Homo sapiens: one gene and its partner. Changing the gene in region 1 together with any one later gene gives a genetic interaction. Each region holds a gene or a part of one and is shown on either strand. Other genes may lie near its edges. The genes, in order: ARIH1 and DICER1.

Region 1 (3,819 bases):
CATTTGCATCAACCTGGATGGGATTGGAGACTTATTATTCTAAGAGAAGTAAATCAAGAACAGAAAACCAAACATTATATGTTCTCACTCATAAGTGGGAGCTAAGCTATCAGCATGCAAAAGCCTAAGATTGATATAATGAACTCTGGGGACTCGGGGGAAAAAGGTGAGAAGGGGGTGAGAGATAAAACACTACAAACTGGGTTCAGTGTATATTGCTCAGATGATGGGTGCACCAAAATCTCACAAATCACCACTAAAGAATTTACTTATGTAACCAAATACCACCTCTTCCCCAATAACCTAGGGAAATAAAATTTTTTGGAAAAAAGAATATGTGGGATTTTTGCATTATTTCTTGTAACTGCATGTGAATCTACAATTTTCTTTTCTTTTCTTCTTTTTTTTTTTTTTTTTTGATGGAGTTTCACTCTTGTTGCCCAGGCTGGAGTGCAATGGCATAATCTTGGCTCACTGCAACCTCTGTCTCCTGGGTTCAAGTGATTCTCCTGCCTCAGCCTCCCGAGTAGCTGGGATTACAGGCGCCCACCACCATGCCCGGCTAATTTTTGTATTTTTTTAGTAGAGACGGGGTTTCGCCATTTGGCCAGGCTGGTCTCGAACTCCTGACTTCAGGTGATCCGCCTGCCTCGGCCTCCCAAAGTGCTGGGATTACAGGCGTGAGCCACCATGCCCGGCTGTGAATCTACAATTTTCTATTTTAAAAACAGTAATGAAAAAAATCCCCAGGTGATTCCATTACGTAGCTAGAGTTAAAAAAAAAAAAAATCAGTAAACTGGAGAATCTCAAATTCCTACCAATTCTGAGACTACAAGCTATTTTAAACTTAAGCCACTGAAAGGTTATTAGGAATGTTTATCATTTACAGGTATAATGTTTTGCAAAGCCAAAAGTAATTAATTTACGGTTAATCCAAAATAAAAAATCCAAAACACTATGTTCTCCCAATAGCATACAAAAAGATTGGATAGAAAGGCATTATACAATAGCTGTAATTTACCTCTTAACAGAGAGAGACAGAGACAAACAGCCGGCCTCTAAGATAGCCCCCAAAGACCCCTGCCTCCTGGTCTTCACATCTTTGTATAATCCCCTCCGATTGAGTATGGGCTGGATTTGGTTATTCACTTACAACAAATAGAATATTGCAAAGTGATGCGACGTTACTTCTGAAATTAAGTTATAAAAACTTTGTGGCTTCCATCGTATGGGCCTTTTCTCTAAGATCCCTCACTCTGGAGGAAACAAGCTACTGTGTTGTCAGCCACTTTATGGAGAGGCCCACATGGCAAGGAACTGATATCTCTGGGCAACAACCAGCCAGTGAAAATCTGGCCTGGTCACAGCCAAATGAGTGAGCTCGGAAGGGGAAGCTTCCCCAGTCAAGCCTTGAGGACTGCTACCCAGGCCAGACACGGTGGCTCATGCCTGTAATCCCAGCACTTTAGGAGGCTAAGGCGGGCAGATCCCTTGAATTAAGGTGTTCAAGAGCAGCCTAGGCAACATGGCAAAACAAAAAAATACTGGTCTCTACCAAAAAACCCACAAAAACAAAAAAATAAGCTGGGGTGTGGTGGTGCACATCTATAGTCCCAACTACTCAGGAGGCTGAGGTAAGAGGATCACTTGGACTCAAGAGGTGAGGGTTGCAATGAGCCGAGATTATGCCATTGCACTCCAGCCTGGGCACCACAGCAAGCCTCTGTCTTTAAAAAAAAAAAAAAAAAAGAGAGAGAGAGAACTGCTACCAAGCCGTCACCTTGGTTGCAGCCTTGTAAGAGACCATAAGCCAGAGGCCCCCAGGTAAGCTGCATCCAGAATTGTGACTCACAGAAACTATGATATAACAGATCCTTGTTTTTTTAAGCCACTAAGTTTTGGGGTAACATAAGGCAAAAGATAACCAATCTACATAGTTACCACAGGTCAACCCCAAAAGAATCTAATGTGATGACTTCTGCTTACCTTTCATCACAGTATTTAATCTCCCAGGTTCTACATTATTATCCAGCATTTATAAGCTCCATTCTACTTTAGCTGATTTCACCATTACCCAAAAACTCTCCTCATTCTCACCTCATTCAGTTCCTTAGAATGACTTCCTCTTTTTTATCCACCCAAATCCTAGCCATCTTTGACAACACCTACAGAGGTCTCTTCCATGAGTATCTATTACTATCCACTTATTTAAATTACTCACTAACCTAACAGCTTTAACTCTAAGAGATTCTCAACTCCTTAAGAATAAGTCTTCTCATATTCCTTTAAACAGGACTTTATATCTATCCAGGACTTTATATCTCTTCCAGCATACTAATAAATTAGAAAACTCAACATTCTATATTAAAAAAATCTAGGACTGGAAGGGAAATCAAGAACTCCAATCTAGAATGTCAGATGTCACTAGTTTAGTTTGTCTATTTGAAAATACTGGCCGGGTGCAGTGGCTCATGCCTGTAATCCCAGCACTTTGGGAGGCCAAGTCGGGTGGATCACCTGAGGTCAGGAGTTCGAGATCAGCCTGGCCAACATGGTGAAACCCCGTCTCTACCAAAAATACAAAATTAGCCGGGCGTAGTGGTGGGCGCCTGTAATCCCAGCTACTCGGGAGGCTGAAGGAGGAGAATCGCTTGAACCCAGCAGGCGAAGGTTGCAGTGAGCCGAGATGGCGCCACTGCACCCCAGCCTGGGCAAGAGAGAAAAGACTCTGTCTCCAAAAAAGAAAAGAAAAGAAAAGAAAATACTGAGTAAAGACCACCTTAGCTGAAGGATAGCATAGCATGAAGGATAGCATCTACGATGACAAACATCTTCCAACCCTATGATTAGCCTAGTAAACGTTGCCTAGGTTCTGGAAATTTTCCCATTATTACCTTTTTTTTGAAGTAGAGTCTCCCTCTGTCACCCAGGCTAGAGTGCAGTGACACTATCTCAGCTCACTGCAACCTCCAATTCCCAGGTTCAAGCAATTCTCCTGCCTCAAGTCTCCCAAGTAGCTGGGATTACAGGCACAGGCCACCACGCCCAGCTAGTGTTTCACCATATTGGCCAGGCTGGTCTCAAACTCCTGACCTCAAGTGATCTGCCTGGCACAGTCCCCAAAGTGCTGGGATTACAGGTGTGAGCCACCGTGACTGGTCCCCTATTATTAGTTTCTTAAACAATTTATCTTCCCTCATTAACCCACCTCTGTAGTAATCTATCACTACACGTAACACATAGAGAAACACTGCTATTAAATTTCAACTACATCAGCAGTTCTCAAACTTTAGCTTGCATCACCATCACCTAGAAGGCTTGTTAAAACAGACAGCCAGACCCCATCCCCAGAGTTTGATTCATAGGACTACTGCCATAGCAATTCAACAAGTCAGTGTAATTTAAACTTACAGCTCAAGGAGATCAGCTGGGAAAATATAAAAGTCCAAAAGAAATAAATCTAAACTATATCAAACACTTTAATAACTTCAAAACACATGTGCCTGCACACATCATGCACAGGCTTGTACACCCTCTTCCTCCTCTCCCAATTAATGAACATAACCACAATATGCACACCTGAATTCAATTTCTTGGAAAAAATGAACATCTCCAATTAACTGAGGTTTTTAAAATGATGTTAAACGAATAAAACACTTAATGTAAAAAAGGACCAACCTAGTATTTCAACTCCCTCATTTTCAGTCCCAGATTAAAAACAAAACAAGGCCGGGCAAGGTGGCTCACTGTGATCCCAGAACTTTGGGAGGCCGAGGCGGGCAGATCACCTGAGGTCGGGAGTTTGAGACCAGCCTGAC
Region 2 (3,819 bases), on another chromosome or scaffold:
TACCTGAATATCTGAGTGGGAAAAAACACACACAAACTGTTTTTCCTTTGTTCTCACACACCACATAAAATTTCTGTGACCAAATGTGTGGGGTTTCTCCCCAACAACAAGCAAGCCATCAATTCTGCAGCGGACACCAGCTGGGTGTCTTCTATTAATGACTGAATTCCAACATTATCTACCTGGAGATAGCATCAGATCCCACAGGTTGAGGGCTCCAGTCCTCAAGACCTCCCCCACCCTTCCGTGTCAATTGCAAACCTCAGGTTATTTTTTGCCCGTGCTCCCGACCAATCAGTTAACTGGGGTTCCCACAACGCCCTCCTGGGATTTAACTTGCTAGACCAGCTCACAGTCCTTGGGGAAAAACTTACTTATGTTTACCAGTTTATTATAAAGGATATTACAGGCTGGGTGCAGTGGCACACGCCTGTAATCCTAGCACTTTGGAAGGCCAAGATGGGAGGATCGCTTGAGGCCAGCAGTTCGAGACCGGCCTGGTCAACACAGCGAGAGTCCATCTCAATAAAAATAAGTAAATTAATTAGGTAAAGGATATTACAAAGATCCAGATGAAGACATGCACAGGGTTAGGTATGGAGAAGGGGTATAGAGCTTCCAAGCCCTCCCAGAGCAAACTGCCCTCCAGGAACCTCCATGTGTTCAACTATCCAGAAGCTTTCCAAACTCTGTCCTTCAGGGTTTTTATGAAGACTCATTACCTGGGCATGATTAACCTTCAGCCCCTCTTCCCTCCCCAGAGGTTGGAGGGTGGGTCTGAGTCCAAACCTCTAATCATGCCTTAGTCTTCCCAGTAACCAGCCCCCATTTTGAAGCTACCAGGAGCTACCGGCCACCAGTCGATCATTAGCATACAAAAACACATCACTTTGGAGATTCTAAGGATTTCAAGCCTTGTATGCCTAAGAATAGGGTAGAGGACAGACCAAATATATATTTTACAGTATCATAGTACCTACAATTTAAACCACAAATTCATTAGCCTTCTTTTCATGCATTACTGTATCTGAACCAAATAAATTTCTGGGTTTCTCTAAATCTCTAACATAAATATGTTATGTTTAGATTTCAATATAATCATGCCTAAAATTAGATTGGTCCAAAATTGAAGTGGAACACAGGTCAAATACCATCTTAACAAATTCCACCCATCAAAGATCTCCATATAAGAAGTGTCTCCAGGCTGCAAGCCAAAGGTCCGCTTACTTCTTGGAGTACTTCTCAGAAAGATGACATTTCAACACATCAAAACAGCACAGATACCCACCCCTCCCCTTCAAGTTACCTATAATGACATTTGTCCTACAGTTTTGTTTCAAGAGACATAAATACTTAACACATCACTAGCTTTCAAGGTGAGTTTTAAGGTTCATATTTGATTCCAAGTTTCTGTACTTTACTCTTTTTTTTTATTTTTTATTTGGAGACAGGGTCTCACTCTGTCTATTTACAGGCACCATCAGAGCACATTACAGCCTTGAACTCCTGGGCTCAAGTGATCCTGCCATCTCAGCCTCCTGAGCAGCTGAGACTACAGGCACATACTTTACTCTTAACACTGTGCAACGAGTGCTAGAATTTTATTCAATTCACGACTACCCTCTACCTTTACACCAAGAAAGAGCATCCATTGGGAAAAAGGAGCCACAATTTTCTCTTTGTCAAGCTGTTTTAAGATATATAACATGAATACTTAAATACTAAAGGGAGGTCAATCCAGAGACAAAATGAACATAAGAGACTACTGAGTTAAGATGGATGTTTATTGAGACAGGAAAGCAAATATATTAAAAGGTCCAGGCAAGAGTGTGACGCACTACATCATCATAGCTTCTGCGCAACATCTCATGTTATCTGCCTTTCCCGTAACACCAAAACAAGTGTGTACCAACAGAGTTCGCCACCTCTCACGAACCCCACCCCACAACTTTCCCTAAAAACCTCTATCACTTTAGTCCCCTCCCCTCTCATTTAGCACACATGGGCTAGCTACAACACCCAAATCATCACGGGCTTCATTATATTACTGCCCCATATATTAGCTGTTATTGCCATCTCCCTCAAGAGTATTAAGATCTTTGAAAGATAATCTCATACTATACTCACATTCATATTACATAGTTCATGATTTGTTTGATTTTCACGTTACTGTAAATTTGTAATGACTAGGTAGTTTGGAATGTAGGAAAGTAAATATCCATGAATAATTTTTTATTAATTAATTCGATGTTGAGAATAAGCTTTATTGATCTTAACTATTGAATTAAAGCAGCTTTTTATAGGTCAAATATAAAACTCAAATTAGACACTTTTAAATTAAAAGACTTTAAACAACCCAAATTATTTCAACAAGCTTAACATCCTCGATCTTGGCACCCAAGTCCAAAAGAATAATTCGAGGCTAACTAGAAACTGTCAAAGCTAGAGAGGTATCAGTTAGTGCAATGATAATTTTGGTATCATCTGACTATACCCATCCTAGTTTTCTCAGTTAACTTCCAACCACTACAAAATTCTCTTCCATATTAATGCAAACTAATCTGACTCCAACCTTGAAGATGTTTCAGAAACAATTTTAAAGTTCTTAAAGTTACAGGTGCAACTGGGAAAACCCAACTCAAGACAGTCTTATTTCTCAACTTAGTTTCTCATTTTACAAACTGTATTTTGTAGGCCGGGCACGGTGGCTCATGCCTGCAATCCCAGCACTTTGGGAGGCAGAGACAGGTGAATCACTTGAGGTCAGGAGTTCGAGACCAGCTTGGCTAACATGGTGAAACCCCGTCTCCACTTAAAAAATACAAAAATTAGCTCAATATAGTGGCTTGCACCTGTAGTCCCAGCTACTCAGGAGGCTGACACAGGAGAATCGCTTGAACCCAGGAGCCAGAGGTTGCAGTAAGCTAAGATCACGCCACTGCACCCCAGCCTGAGAGACAGAGCAAGACTCAGCATTAACAACAACAAAAAAGAAATCGTATTTTGTTAGGTTTAAAATTCAGGCGAAACTCTACTGAATGTCAACTAATAAATGTAGAAGGAATGACAGAAAAGTCACCATTTTTAACCATCACATTAGTGATTGAAGCAAGGATCATTAATGGATGCTAAAACCATTGGGTGAAGGTTACTAAAGAATATTTACATAGCCTGAAAGCTTTTCTGCAGATTACCTACTAATTACAAATGAAAACTAGTATTTTTATTCAGTGGAAAAACCAGATAGATACCCCTTTAATCCAAGTGACAAAGCTAAGATCACCAGTATTAGGACAAACTGACAACACATACCTAATGTAGTTTTCCTACTGAAAGTACAAAACTTGAATCTATTTTTGCCGGGGGAAAGAGGGGAACAGAGTCTCGCTCTGTTGCCCAGACTGGAGTGCAGTGGCACAATTATAGCTCACTGCTACCTCAAACTCTTAGGTTCTAGAGATCCTCCTGCCTTGGCCTCCTAAAGTGCTGAGATTACAGGAGTGAGCCACTGTGCCCAGCTGAAACCTGAATCTAATCATAAGGAAACATAAAACCTAACTTGAGGTTTATTTTACAAAACACTTGGCTTTATACACTGAATTGAAGTATGATTTCAAGGATGATGTGTTAATTCATGCATAGCAGATGAAGAATGTGTTATTTAGGGAAAGTTAAGAGACGTTTAAGGCACTGTTACATTTGGTATCACTACTACAGAGACCAACTAAGATAGCTGAACCAGTATAGATAATCCTCCTCGAAAACTTGTCTGTAAAATATTGTTCTCAAGCCCTCTTTTCCTTCATCCTCCATTATATT

What was found.
Region 2: changes in ARIH1 (region 1) and DICER1 together harm fitness more than expected from each alone (negative genetic interaction), as found in Homo sapiens cells (one large-scale study listed by BioGRID).

Annotation. Positions count from the first base shown.
Region 1 is NC_000015.10:72,480,771-72,484,589, reverse strand, and holds part of ARIH1 (E3 ubiquitin-protein ligase ARIH1), read right to left. Parts: intron 1-3,819. UniProt on the Homo sapiens protein: E3 ubiquitin-protein ligase, which catalyzes ubiquitination of target proteins together with ubiquitin-conjugating enzyme E2 UBE2L3.
Region 2 is NC_000014.9:95,147,509-95,151,327, forward strand, and holds part of DICER1 (endoribonuclease Dicer), read right to left. Parts: intron 1-3,819. UniProt on the Homo sapiens protein: Double-stranded RNA (dsRNA) endoribonuclease playing a central role in short dsRNA-mediated post-transcriptional gene silencing.